Homo sapiens: one gene and its partners. The gene in region 1 interacts genetically with each later gene. Each region holds a gene or a part of one and is shown in the gene's direction. Other genes may lie near its edges.

Region 1 (4,392 bases):
AGGATGGATGTGGCGCTGGCCACAGTGCTGAATATGTTCCTGGGGCGGTCCCGAGGTCGGTGGGCCGGGAGGGGCCGGTCGGATTTGTGAATTCGCTGGCAACTGGCAGTCTCATGCCTTCGGGTGCTGATTTCTGGCTCTGAGCAGGAGACGCACAGACCGCGTCCAGAGGGTCACCTTGCTAGTGTAGGGGTGGCCTTTGACCTGTTCCCACCGGCACAGCTTCTACTTCTCAACAGCAACGCGTCTTCTATTTATTGAGTGCCTCCGGTGGTCCCTGACACTTGATATCACCCCCAGTGGTCCGCACAAATCATTGCAATTCAAAGAAAAAGACGTAATGCTCAGGAGGTTGAAGACCTTGCCCAAGGGAATACGGCTACTAAATGGCTGATCTCTCTCAGTTATGCCTCAAAAAATGTTTCCTGCACACTCTCGACGCGCCAGCCTCACAGCCTCTTCTTCACTTGCCGCCTCCACACACCTCCAACCCTGCCTTTTTCCTTTCTCCTGTTCCCTCCCTGACCAACCTCGGCACCCCGCCACCAGGTTTGCATCAAGCAAAAGTAATATACCCTACAGCAGACTCTCTACCACTACCGAGTGATACAAAGGACTGGGATTCTGGACAGGGTTTACTCACATATCTTGCCCCTGTGCGCTCAGAAGTCCCAACCGGGTGGGAGATCCGACACTGGTCCCCGAGTCCCCAGCTCGCTGTGTGACCTTGGACAAGTAGTCACATCGCTGAACCTGGGTCCTATAACTGCGTGAGACTATTCTTTGGTGCTCACCGGTATGAATACAAACACAAGGTCCTTCTTTTCTCTCTCTATCCCCCTTCCCAAGTCGAGTTGGTCAAGCTCGCTTTTTCTTTCCACCAGGGCCATAGCCAGCTGCAGCCTTGTGGAGGAAGAAATCAGGTCCCAGCTGCTAAAGGTGTCCTCCCCACCGCCACCGTCGTCTTCACCCCCACCCCCGGGTGTGACCTGTCCTTCCGGGGCACACTAGTCCAGCGTCGCCCAGGGCTTCGGAGAGAGCGCCTCACGCTCCCGCTTCGCGGCGCCTGGTCCCTGCGGTCCCCACTCGCTGCGACGCTTTGGGAAGTGCGAGATGGAACTGGATCGAGAACGCAAATGCGAGGCAGGGCTGGTGACAGGTATGCGTGTGGGCGCCGGCCGGAGGATGTGTTGGGAGAAACTTTGGGGGAGTTGGTGGGGGAAAGGGGAGGTGTCAGAGAAAGCAGTGGGTCACTCTCTCACCCACTGACCACCAGTCTCTCTCCCTCTTCCTTGTCCCCATCTCACCTTCTTCCTCGGCTTCTGCCTCTCACCTCCCTCTCTTTCTTCTCCAAGCATCCTCCCTACGCGTCTGCACCCGCTCCTCCCTCGCACCCTCCCGCGCCTAAGCGGACCTCCTCGGGAGCCAGCTCGGTCCAGCCTCCCAGCGCAGTCACGTCCCAGAGCCTGTTCAGCTGAGCCGGCAGCATGTGGAACGCGACGCCCAGCGAAGAGCCGGGGTTCAACCTCACACTGGCCGACCTGGACTGGGATGCTTCCCCCGGCAACGACTCGCTGGGCGACGAGCTGCTGCAGCTCTTCCCCGCGCCGCTGCTGGCGGGCGTCACAGCCACCTGCGTGGCACTCTTCGTGGTGGGCATCGCTGGCAACCTGCTCACCATGCTGGTGGTGTCGCGCTTCCGCGAGCTGCGCACCACCACCAACCTCTACCTGTCCAGCATGGCCTTCTCCGATCTGCTCATCTTCCTCTGCATGCCCCTGGACCTCGTTCGCCTCTGGCAGTACCGGCCCTGGAACTTCGGCGACCTCCTCTGCAAACTCTTCCAATTCGTCAGTGAGAGCTGCACCTACGCCACGGTGCTCACCATCACAGCGCTGAGCGTCGAGCGCTACTTCGCCATCTGCTTCCCACTCCGGGCCAAGGTGGTGGTCACCAAGGGGCGGGTGAAGCTGGTCATCTTCGTCATCTGGGCCGTGGCCTTCTGCAGCGCCGGGCCCATCTTCGTGCTAGTCGGGGTGGAGCACGAGAACGGCACCGACCCTTGGGACACCAACGAGTGCCGCCCCACCGAGTTTGCGGTGCGCTCTGGACTGCTCACGGTCATGGTGTGGGTGTCCAGCATCTTCTTCTTCCTTCCTGTCTTCTGTCTCACGGTCCTCTACAGTCTCATCGGCAGGAAGCTGTGGCGGAGGAGGCGCGGCGATGCTGTCGTGGGTGCCTCGCTCAGGGACCAGAACCACAAGCAAACCGTGAAAATGCTGGGTGGGTCTCAGCGCGCGCTCAGGCTTTCTCTCGCGGGTCCTATCCTCTCCCTGTGCCTTCTCCCTTCTCTCTGAGTCTCCATCTCTATTTCCCCCTGAGTCGCTACCTCTTTCTTCAGTTTCTCTGGGCCTCTGTCTCTCTGCGTTTCTCTCAATTATTCTCTCCTCTTGCTTTCTTGAGTGATGTTTTTGATCTCTCAATCTTTCTCTCTGTCTCTGTCTCTCTCTCTCCTCCCCCTTTACTTTGTCAGTGTCTTTCTTACCGTCTCTATCTCTTTGTGTCTCTTTCTTCCTGTCTCTCCTTTCTCTCTTTCATGCAAAAATGTCCCATATTTGTATTTCCCTAAAATAAATTTTATATCAGCCCAGAAACTCCACTTTAAAAATCGAGATATCTTATAAAAGTCCATTGTGGTCTTTAAGCGTTAAAAGTGAGGACTGACTTCCTGCCTCAAGTAGGATTTGTGAATATCTAAGTTACATTAAGAAAAGCAGGGTTTGGATCTAGAAAGCGTTCAGCGGTAAATTCAACCAAAGACATGATCAATTTGGATAATCCTCTTAGAGATTATTCATTTTTCTTTCAATATTGTGATTTGTTTTCTGCCCTGCATTTTTTCAGATAATTGCATCAATTCTGTTTACCCTGCTGCTGTTCATACAGCTTTGTAAGGAAGTCAGTGACAAATCAGTGAAGTCTCATTTGTTTTTATGATTACCTGCCTCTTCAGGTAGGATAGACTAGGATAAGGTAAGGATAAACTAGATTAAACAAAGCTCCAACAGGAGGAAAGGAGACTTTGTGGAAACCAACAGAATTCACTACTTCCCCAAATGACCCTTCAGGAACATCTGGGCACAATGTCATAACTGGATTTGCTGAATGTTTATTGCACAAATTCAGCTTCTTTAAGTATATGTGTTTGGTACAAGTGAAGTAATAATAAATATGGTTACAGCCCAGCAAAATATTAACTCTACTTGCATTTTCAAAACCAAGGTCTGTATATTTTATTATTTAGATATTATAGTCAAGACTTCATACTTAATGGCATATTTTAAGGCTTCTTAGAAGCCATTCCAGGATGATTTCATATTTCCAATTTTACAGTTCCTGGATCCTCCATATTAAAGTGATAGAGTTTATTCAAGGAATGTCAAAGATTTTATTTTCTGGACCGGTGATTCTCGTGATATGACTCATAGGTTATAAACCTGCTAGTGTCCTCCAAGGGATCCTAAGCTCTCACCTACGAGAGTCACATTGTTACTGTGGCAGTTAAGTTGCTACTATACAACTTAGTTTTAAGGATAAGTTTAATAATTTCCTCCAATTTTATTTTCAAGCCATTAATTTCTTCATTGGTGTCTCAACACCAATGTTAACTTTCTTCTTCCTTGACAATTTGAAGGGGATCACTAAAGTGTTACAACGACTAAAAAATTATTTGTTATTATTTTTCCCTGATTTCTGAATTTAAAACAATCTAAACATTTAGACATCATTAAAAATTATCTTACATAGGCAAAATGAAGACTTGGATGGATGATAATTTATATGAGTTGGTTTAATAATAGCCTTACTTATGTCTATTGTAAGTGGCATAGAATCATTCATCTCAGTGATTCTTAATCCTAACTGTATATTCAATCCTCTGTGAAACTTAAAAAAAAAAAAGAGAAGATAAAACATATGTCCTGATCGCCCTCTTAGAGATTTAAATTGACTGAGTCTATACTACATCCAAGGAATCTGCATTGTTTTAAAAAGTGCCCCAGGAGACTCGGATACACAGCTATGGTTGAGTACAACCACTTTACCTCGTAAGTGTGTCTGTTGTGTCTAACACATAAAAACTGCTGGACTATTGTGAATAAATGGTCTAGTCAGTTGAGTCAATGTGTCAACTCAGTACAAAATCACTCAGATAGTTGTTAAATAGAAATGACTGGGGAGCTCAGTAAAAATTGTTGAACTGTTGGTCCAGACAGACTGAATCTTTGTTAAAATGTTGGAACAGGAAGAGCAGGACACAATGTTTCTCTGAAGTCAATGGTCATAGACCATGAAACAAAAACAAAGTCTTAAAAATAGAATGTGATTTGCTGT
Region 2 (2,800 bases), on another chromosome or scaffold:
TGATGGCTGGTGGGGAGAGGTGCTCTTGCTCTGATTTCTCTTGCACTGTGTGTATCTGCATTCTGGTGTGTGACCCGGTGGCCTAGGAGAGAGTTGGGAACTGTCTTCATCTGAGAGAGGGGGTGAGGCAGGCCCCCAGCACACAGCCTGAGCCCTGCCCATCCTCCTCCTCCAGCCTGTGTGTCTTGATGTCTGACTGGTTCAACTTCCACGGTCACATGTGCATCGCCTTTGAGCTCCTGGGCAAGAACACCTTTGAGTTCCTGAAGGAGAATAACTTCCAGCCTTACCCCCTACCACATGTCCGGCACATGGCCTACCAGCTCTGCCACGCCCTTAGATGTAAGTGTCCACCCTCAAAAGAAGCATGGGCAGCCACATGCCTGCAGCCAAGTCATCTGGTTACTTGTTGTCCCCATTCATTCCAGCACGTTACTAACCATTCTCCTGGGCCTGAGGGACACCAGATCCCCTTTGGCGGAAAGGCCTGTCTTTGGGTGGGAATCTCAGTGTGAGGATGGAAAGGCTAGGGCTCCCTCCAGGGACCTCCTGGACCAGCCTCTCTACCCCCAGGCACTCAGGAAGAAAACAGAAACGAACTGCTCTGGAATTGGCCTAACCACCAACCCTGCCTCCCTGCTTCATGCATGGGATAAAAAGGTAGAAGCCTGACCTGACAGATAGCACCACAGGTCCTGCCCACATGGAGACCCTCGGTCTAACCCTGACTTGTCATCTCCCTGCCAGCCTGGAAAAGCATTATTTGGCAGTGCCAGGGCTCAGCGCAGTAGGATTTGCAATGGTTGCAGCAGTACAGAAAGGCTCCTTGGTGAAGTTGGTAGGCGTTGAGCTAGAATCGCTCAAGGTCACCCCGCATCGCTCCCCTACCCTGAGCACTGCTACTGTGATAGGCTGCAGGCCACTGGGGTGGGAAGCCCCACATGGATGAGAAGACAGGTGTCTTCCTCCTCCCACAGGATCTGCAAGATGGGACAGGGACAAGGATTCCAAGCAAGGGGAACAGCTTGGTGAGGCCTGGAGCCTGTTAACGGGCTGAGAATTGGCTCCAGTGGAGTAGACTGCCACTGGGGAGTGGTGGGCCACATAGTTGTGAGGGTCTTGAGTGCCAGATGGGATCCTTGAGCTGAAAAGTGACTACTAGCAAGAAGCCACTGTCAGAAGGGGCTGGAGGGGAAAGGCTTGCCTGCTTATGACTAGCAATGAGAGGCGGGGCTGTCTTCCTGGGTATGCGACCTGTGCACTCAGTCGCACAGGACCCTGTGCTTGATTTAATGTCCTTTTGCCACCACCTTAATATTCTTAGTAACTTGAACAGGGGACCTGCATTTTCATTTTGCAAAGGGCCCTGCAAATTATGTAGCTGGTGCAGGGAAGAGGGAACCACCTCGAGGCTGTTGCTGTAGCTCTGCTGAGAGACAGGTGAGGAGGCCTGGTCTCTGCAGAGGAGAGGTGGAGGGAGGTTTTTCGAATGGCAAATTTCTTTCCTACCCCCCTGCTAAAGTATCAGAACCCTCCAAGGCCTCAAGTACAGAGAACCCTTGAGAGGGAGGCCAGCACAGAGGCAGGCTGTAGTCCAGCTCCCTGCTGAGGTGGGGGTGTGAGGACCTCTGGCAGTTGCTGGCATTGGAAGAGGGGTCTGGCCTAGAGCTGGCAGGAGAGCCAGCTTCTCAGTGCCTACTTCCCCTTCTTTCCCTGCTACCTTAGTTCTGCATGAGAATCAGCTGACCCATACAGACTTGAAACCAGAGAACATCCTGTTTGTGAATTCTGAGTTTGAAACCCTCTACAATGAGCACAAGGTATTGGTGGGGGTAAGGGTGAGGCCCTGTTTCAGGGGTGGGTTACCCGCTGGTGCAGACTCCTGACCTGGCAGGCCTGCCTTGCCTTTCAGAGCTGTGAGGAGAAGTCAGTGAAGAACACCAGCATCCGAGTGGCTGACTTTGGCAGTGCCACATTTGACCATGAGCACCACACCACCATTGTGGCCACCCGTCACTATCGCCCGCCTGAGGTGATCCTTGGTGAGTGACTGTATGGCCTGTGACCTTGTCATACTGGACTGTTGTTGGGAGGGTATGAGCAGAGGCAGTGGCATGCCTGTCATTCTCTGCCACCCAGGGCAGGCAGAGTTTCTCAGACCAAGGGGCCAGTGTCATGAGACACAGGTGACTGACCTGGCTTTATCTGTCAGCCTTACTGAGAGAGGGCCTCGTACTGGGATTTGGGCAAGAGTCCTGCCAGCCGGTGTGGTGGCTGCCTTGTGACTTCCAGGCTGGAAGCATAAGGCCGGATCTCACAGCCTCTCCCCATCTTGGCTTGCAGAGCTGGGCTGGGCACAGCCCTGTGACGTCTGGAGCATTGGCTGCATTCTCTTTGAGTACTACCGGGGCTTCACACTCTTCCAGGTACAGCCACCCTGCATTGGTCCCCTACCCTGAGTACTGCTACTGTGATAGGCTGCAGGCCACTGGGGTGGGAAGCCCCACATGGATGAGAAGACAGGTGTCTTCCTCCTCCCACTAATCATCATGTGAGATTCAGACCCTTTAAGGATGTAGATGCTAAAGGGAAGGCAGAGGTCAGGGTAGCTGGAACACTCAGAGGAGTCTTATGCTAGGCCATCGAGGATGGAGGATGGGGTAGGAGGTGACCTGACCTTCTAGATAAGGGGCACAGATGACTAAAGGCATCGGGATGGGCTGGGACAGGGCATGTTCTGGGCAGGGAGTGAAGAGCTAACCAGAGAGAAATGTAGTCACAGCCCAGTCCACCTCCACCC
Region 3 (3,867 bases), on another chromosome or scaffold:
TATGCATCAGCACTATTAGTGGCTGCATTGTGTGGTCATACCACAAATTCATCTAACCGGTTTCCCTGTGTGGGCCATTCAGGCTGTTTCCAAGTCTTGCTTTTATAAATGGTGCTGCAACGAGTATCTTCCTACAAGTGAGATTTGCTGGGTCAAAGTATATGAATACATTTAATATCTGTCCTCGTCTTTAATATCTTTATGGCATCATAACTCCCCCTCTCCTAAGCAGGAATGGCAGCCTTCATACATTTATCCATTTGCCACTGCATCTGTAATCACACTGACGGCCAAGAGTTTAAAAGGAGGCTGGGCCTGGGTGCGGTGGCTCATGCCTGTAATCCCAGCACCTTGAGAGGCTGAGGCTGGTGGATAGCTTGAGTCTAGGAGTTCGAAACCAGCCTGGGCAACATGGTAAACCCCGTCTCTACAAGAAATAGAAAATTAGCCATGCATGGTGGCACGCTCCTGTAGTTCTAGCTACTCAGGAGGCTGAGGTGGAGGTTGCAGTGACCTGAGATTGCATCATTGCACTCCAGCCTGGATGACAGAGAAAAAAAAAAAAAAAAAGAGGCTGGACATGGTCCTCTGGCTGAGATTCTGGGATAAGTGTCAGGAACTATGGCTTCTAGTTTTGTGGTTGCTTGTGTCTGAGGTTCTGGGCTATGTGTCAGGCATTGTGGCTTCTAGTTTTTGTGGTTACCTGCAGCAAAGGGGGGCCCCCTGGGCTGACCAATTAGAAGAAGGCCTTTTCCTTGCTCCAAGATAGCGGAGGGAGGGGCTGGATTTCAGGTCTCCCTGTCCAGAGACTGATCAGCTTTGGTAGTACATAATCATATGGTGAGGTCTTGATCACTTGAGGCTCATGAAAGTCACTTTAACTGCATTCTTGGTTGCATCCCTAACTACAAATACTGATCACAGTGCTATTTGGGGTGCCTGGCTTTGGGGATGATTTAGTAGAGTTGTGGGTTCCTAGGGCTACAAAGGGTCTTGGAATTTCCATGTGGTCCAGCCCTCTCATCTTGCAGGTGAGGAAACTGAAGGCCTGAGGGAGAACTGACTTGCCAGGAACCCCTGTTAAGCAGAATTAACAAAGGGTGGTTATTAAAGGAGCACTGAGTTGGGAGTCAGACCTGGAGGCCCACACCCTTGATTAAGACATTATACCACCTTGAGTCTGGCCTGTTGACTGAGGGTGAGCCACTCCATCCTCCTCTGATTGTGGGGTGTTGACCTCAAGGGGTTTCCTGCAGGAAGAAGCAAATGGGTTTGCTTTCCTAGCTCTGTCCCAGTGCCTTAGGGGCCCTGAGGACTGGAGAGATTCTTGGAGCGCCATCTGGGGTATGTCACGGGTGGACCTTTTTTGAAGGTCAGTCTGCTCAGTGGGCTGGCTCAGCCCGAATGAACTGTCTTGAATCTTTGGAGTTGTCTGTTTACTTTTAAGGGCTTCTCATCCTTGCACCAAAAGATCCCCTGGAAATTAGGTGGGAAATCCTTAACTTTTATGGGGCCTTGTGTTTGTCTTAAAAGTTCATGCGCATGGCCAGGTGTGGTGGCTCACACCTGTAATCCTATCCTGGATCCCTTGAGTCAAGGAGTTTGAGACCAATGTGAACAACATAGTGAGACCCTGTCTCTACAAAAAATAAAATATTAGCCAGGGGTGGTTGTGCACACCTGTTGTCCCAGCTACTACAGTGGCTGAGGCTGGAGGAGCACTTGAGCCTGCACTGAGCTGTGATCTCACCAGTGTACTCCAGCCTGGGCCACAGAGCAAGAACTTGACTCAAAAAAAAAAAAAACCAGCAAGAAAAATCCTTGCAGATTTTGCATTCTGTGCCACTATCCATTGGTTTTCATGTCAAGATAATGTAAAAATTCTTTACAATTGCTTCCAGAAGGAGTAGCCTTTTAATCTAGTGCACAGGTGTCCAGTCTTTTGGCTTCTCAGGGCCACATTGGAAGAAGAATGCTCCTGGGCCACAGATAAAATACACTAATGCTAACAATAGCTGATGAGCTTAAAAAAAAAAAAAAAGGTTTGTGCATAATTTTCATGATACCCACCACCACAGATAGGCGGAAAAGTCCTTGTAGTCAAAGGGTTGGACACGGCTGATCTAGTGTCTTGTCCGTTTTGGCTTTCTCCCTGATTCCAGAATGCAGGTAGAGATGTAGAGACGTGCTCTCAGGACAGCTGTTGAGATAAAAAAATTTGTTGTCATTTATTCCCAGGCACAGCTGTTTGTCATTTGCATTGAAAAAGTCTCCATTCAAACTGCTGTCACATATAAAATCTATTTATGTAAGTCTGTATTTTTCTGTTGTCTTGGCCTTGGTGGGCAGTAGTGTGTTTTAACTGAGCAAACTGTCTTTCCAAATAATGAAGCTGAAGTCAGCCTACCTGCTTGCCATTTTTCTTCCCCTTCCATTTTTCTAATCTCCGGATAATTGTAAGAATGAATTAAGATTTGTGTTTAAGGCCGGGCACAGTGTCTTAGGCCTATAATCCCAGCACTTTGGGAGGCAGAGACGGACGTATCGCTTGAGCTCAGGAGTTCCAGACCAGCCTGGGCGACATACTGAGACTCTGTCTTGTATAATTAAATTAAAATTTAAAAAAAGAAGAGATAAAGACCCGTGTTTAAAATTTTTAAAAAAGGGGGGAAAGTGTAATGCAAAATGTGGACTATGCCAGCTATGATTGGGAAAAATAATTTTTCATACAGCATTATCTATAGATTTGTATTAGCAGCATACTGGTCATAAGCGTTTTGCTTTCCGCAAATATGATGTGGTAAGCTACTTTAAAGTGTGGTGGGGCTTTCTTCCGCATGGCTCCTTGAGGGGTTGAGTCCCAATTTATCCAATTAATTTGGGTTTAGTTTTGATATGGATAAGGGAGACCAGCTTCATTCATGGTGCACACACAGTTTTGCCAATAAGGAAAAAAAAAAGCCACCTGAATGTTCCTACTCATTAGGAGCTATCTGGAGAGCTCCTACCCCACTCCCACCAAGGCCTGGGCCCTTAAAAAGGCTCAGTGCAGCCTTTCTGTATCTCACTGTATTCTGCAAGATGCTCCTGTGAAGAAAGTTGTGCTGCATCAGCCATCTCCCTCCTGAAGATCCCTGCGGATGAGGATTTGTGTTTTAAAGGTTCTGAGAAGTACTGCAACAACAGTTCTCAAACTTATTTGTCCAGGGGATCTTTTCTTCCACTGAACGTAGTTGGGGAGACATGGCCTTAAGCCTTGAGCAGAGAAAGAGACAAGAAACTGTTGGCTCACTTACAACCAAGTGTTGTGTTTAAGTTTTAGGTTTTTATGAAACTGAGGTGCTGTTTGAGTTTCCAAATAAAATTGGGTGGTTGAAGAGAGGCTGGTATCCCTGTAGACTTATCCAGCCATGAGAAATTGCCTTTTTTACAAAGGGAAATAGGGTGTCTCCTGGGCATCACATTAGCACTTAAATACATGTATCACTGAATCCTTCTAACAAGAAGAGGAAACTTGCCGAGAGAGGTGTGCCCGCCTGCCTGCCTGCCTGCCTGGAGTTTGCACTTCCTGCCTCCTCCTGGCCCTGGGTGCATTTAGTTGGTGTTAAGGGCATGGTCTGCTCAGTGTCTACCAGGAACCTCATGATCCCCCTGATGGGCAGAAAACAATCCAAGAGAAATGCAGATGGCTGTGGGTGCATTTGAGCTTGGGCTGCAGGGGGTTTGGGGGAGAGGGCTGGGCTACAGATGAAGAATGCTTTTCAAAATAAAAAAGGAAATGCTGGCTCTGAATGGAAAGGAAAGGAAGCAGCTTCCTGTTTCTCGTGGTGGCTTTTTGAAAGGAGGAGCTCTTTCTGGCCTCTTGGC
Region 4 (2,620 bases), on another chromosome or scaffold:
TAGTCATGCCTTGATCAGTTCTGAGATGAAGCAGGGAATGCAGGCCTGGGTTAGTATCCTGAGGACACAGGGCCCCTGGCCTTGATGGCACTGGGCTGTGCTCAGGTGAAGCCCACCCGTGTCTGGGAGAGCCTTGGCTTTTCAGTGGGCAGCATGCTCAACTTTACTTGAAGCTCCCAGGTGCCAAACCATTTAGTGCCTTGGCTGTTTATCCCACTGCCTTGGAAGATGGACTCCTCTCATCTCTGAGCCTTTACCTAGCTGCTTCCTCATCTACCTGTGGTGTTGGGACCAAGCCTCCAATATCTCTGAATAGCCCACTCCTAGCTTGGAAACAGCTATAAGGGCTGCCCTGCCCCTTGTCAAATGATCACCAATTCTTGGTGGCTTGGCTGGGGACAATGAACAGTGTCTGCTGGGGTCTGTGACACACTGTTTCTGGAACAAGGAAGGGATGGAAGGCTCTACCCCTCCGTGGCAGCCCAGCATTTGGCCAACTCTGTATCTGAACTTGAGCTTTCTATGGAACAAACAATGGTCTTAGTTTTTTAAGAGCCTCTGGGTCTCTGATTCCATGGAGAGTCAGGAGTAGAATTAGTGGACCAGAAACCATGACATTTGCCATCTAGGTACTCTGCTGTTCAGGGTGGAGGCACAGATGAGCAGAGTGGGGTGATGTTGGTTGTATGTGCATAGAAGTCCCCTGGCTCCAGAGCCATCCAGTGGTGCTTGGTTCTCTCTTCCTGCCCAGGTATTGTGTGTGGACCAAGTGTTTAGGAAACAAGCATAGAAGCATTATGTCACAGGAAGGCCTGGCCTCTCACTCCTTCACACTAATGAGCCTTCTACTGACCCAAGTTTCTTTTTCTCGGGCAGCCTGGGACCACTATGAGCAGAGAGATGGGAGTCTGTGTAAGAAGGATGCAAGTATCCTTTGATTTGGAGTGGACAGAGCAGGTCCTTGCAAAGGCAGTGGGTTAAACAACGGGATGTCTGTGGGACAGGCCAGGGAAGGAGGGCAGAGACAGGGTCTCCAGTTCACCTTGCCGCAGAACTAGCCTAATCATCCCTGCTTCTGGTCTTGGCCACTTGGCAATCATGGGGAAGTTGACTCCCCGCCTCACTTGGGCTTGGAGCTGGATACTTGTGGCCACGCCCAGGATAGGTTGCCAGAGTTTCATTAGGCCGCTGGGTCGGGCTGGAGGCTTGTGTACACCTCGGAGCAGTCGGGCAGCAGGAGGGCCGGAAGCCTGGTTGGTTTGTATATGACCTCTCTTGCCCTTGTGCACTTTCCTTGATTTAGCAACCTTGACCTGCACTGGCCCTCACAGCTGTTGGAGGGAAGTAGCCTCTTGCAGGGAAATATTTTCCCCTGCCCTGGAATCTCCTATGTGCCTGTTAAAGATTCCAGGGCCAAGAACTCGGCAGGCTGAGGAGCAGCTAGGTAGGTGGGTTATGCGGTTCAGGACTGCTTCTGGAAGGGACTGCCTGTACTTCTGTACCACCGTTGCCCTTTACACTTTGCTCAGGGCGGGGTGGGGGAAGCATTCAAACAAAACAAGGAAGGGAACTGTCTGGCAAAGCATAAGTGGATGCATCCAGAGCTCAGTCCCCTTTAATCTTTTGTCTCTGGGCGTTCTGCTGCCTTCCTCATACCGGGGACTGGCATTCCAGGTCAGCTTGGCTGTGGTCTTAGAGGCAGGGAGTGCCTACCCAGTCCTGCCTCAGGAGCAGGGTGAGTAGCTAAATACAGACTTAGGCTTTTTTTTCCCCCCTTTTAAGATGCTTGCTCCTCTCCCTTTTCTTTTTACCACCCTACCTTTATTGTTAGTGGTTACAAAGTGACCACATATTATGTACTTTGCTGTAAATAAAGACAGACAAAAAGGCTCTCGCCTTCTGTGTGATGCTTGGCCCAGAGCAGCGACCGAATCCTGGCTGTGTGGCCCAAGTGGCTCAGGAAGGGCCATGCTGTGCATGTGTGGTGTAGATGTCACTGGGCCTGCTGTCACGAAGCCTCATGATCCTGGGGTGTATGTGGGGCAGACCCCAGGCCTCACCTGGGCTCAGATACTGGTTCAGGTTAGTGGACTTGCAGTTCTTGTCAAGTGGGAAGCCCGGGCCAGGGTTTCTGGGAGCCTTTGGTTCTTAGGACAACCTGGCGCTATGTTCCCCTGATTCCATCCAGTTTACCTGGCCTCTGCCCCATTGCCTTCCTTAGGCTGGTGACCCAGCCCCTTCCTTGCTCAAACAAACCCTTTTAAAGTAAACTTTTTTGAGGGAGATGGGTGGAAGATGAGGAAAGTTTACATTATAACAACACAAACAGTTCCATGTTGTCCACACGCAGTGAATGGATGTATGTGTGTGTCTATCCCTGTTTTTCAAAGACCTAGGCTACCCACCAAAGATAGATGATTGGCTTTTGTCAGGGTGTGGTGGCTCATGCCTATAATCCCAGCACTTTGAGAGGCCAGGGCAGGAGGACTGCTTGAGGCCAGGAGTTTGAGACCAGCCTGGGCAAGAGGGTGAAACCCCATCTCTACTAAACAAAAATTAGCTAGGTGTGGTGGCACATGCCTGTAATCCTAGCTACTCGGGAAGCTGAAGCACGAGAATC

What was found.
Region 2: changes in GHSR (region 1) and CLK3 together harm fitness less than expected from each alone (positive genetic interaction), as found in Homo sapiens cells (one large-scale study listed by BioGRID).
Region 3: changes in GHSR (region 1) and KSR1 together harm fitness more than expected from each alone (negative genetic interaction), as found in Homo sapiens cells (one large-scale study listed by BioGRID).
Region 4: changes in GHSR (region 1) and UCK2 together harm fitness less than expected from each alone (positive genetic interaction), as found in Homo sapiens cells (one large-scale study listed by BioGRID).

Annotation. Positions count from the first base shown.
Region 1 is NC_000003.12:172,445,509-172,449,900, reverse strand, and holds the start of GHSR (growth hormone secretagogue receptor type 1), read left to right. Parts: upstream 1-1,444; 5' UTR 1,445-1,487; coding exon 1,488-2,283; coding exon of another isoform or gene 2,284-2,357; exon of another isoform or gene 2,358-2,358; intron 2,359-4,392. UniProt on the Homo sapiens protein: Receptor for ghrelin, coupled to G-alpha-11 proteins. Stimulates growth hormone secretion. Also binds other growth hormone releasing peptides (GHRP) (e.g. Met-enkephalin and GHRP-6) as well as non-peptide, low molecular weight secretagogues (e.g.
Region 2 is NC_000015.10:74,625,627-74,628,426, forward strand, and holds part of CLK3 (dual specificity protein kinase CLK3), read left to right. Parts: intron 1-175; coding exon 176-342; intron 343-1,725; coding exon 1,726-1,820; intron 1,821-1,912; coding exon 1,913-2,042; intron 2,043-2,343; coding exon 2,344-2,426; intron 2,427-2,800. UniProt on the Homo sapiens protein: Dual specificity kinase acting on both serine/threonine and tyrosine-containing substrates. Phosphorylates serine- and arginine-rich (SR) proteins of the spliceosomal complex.
Region 3 is NC_000017.11:27,462,915-27,466,781, forward strand, and holds part of KSR1 (kinase suppressor of Ras 1), read left to right. Parts: intron 1-3,867.
Region 4 is NC_000001.11:165,909,729-165,912,348, forward strand, and holds the end of UCK2 (uridine-cytidine kinase 2), read left to right. Parts: 3' UTR 1-1,890; downstream 1,891-2,620. UniProt on the Homo sapiens protein: Phosphorylates uridine and cytidine to uridine monophosphate and cytidine monophosphate. Does not phosphorylate deoxyribonucleosides or purine ribonucleosides. Can use ATP or GTP as a phosphate donor.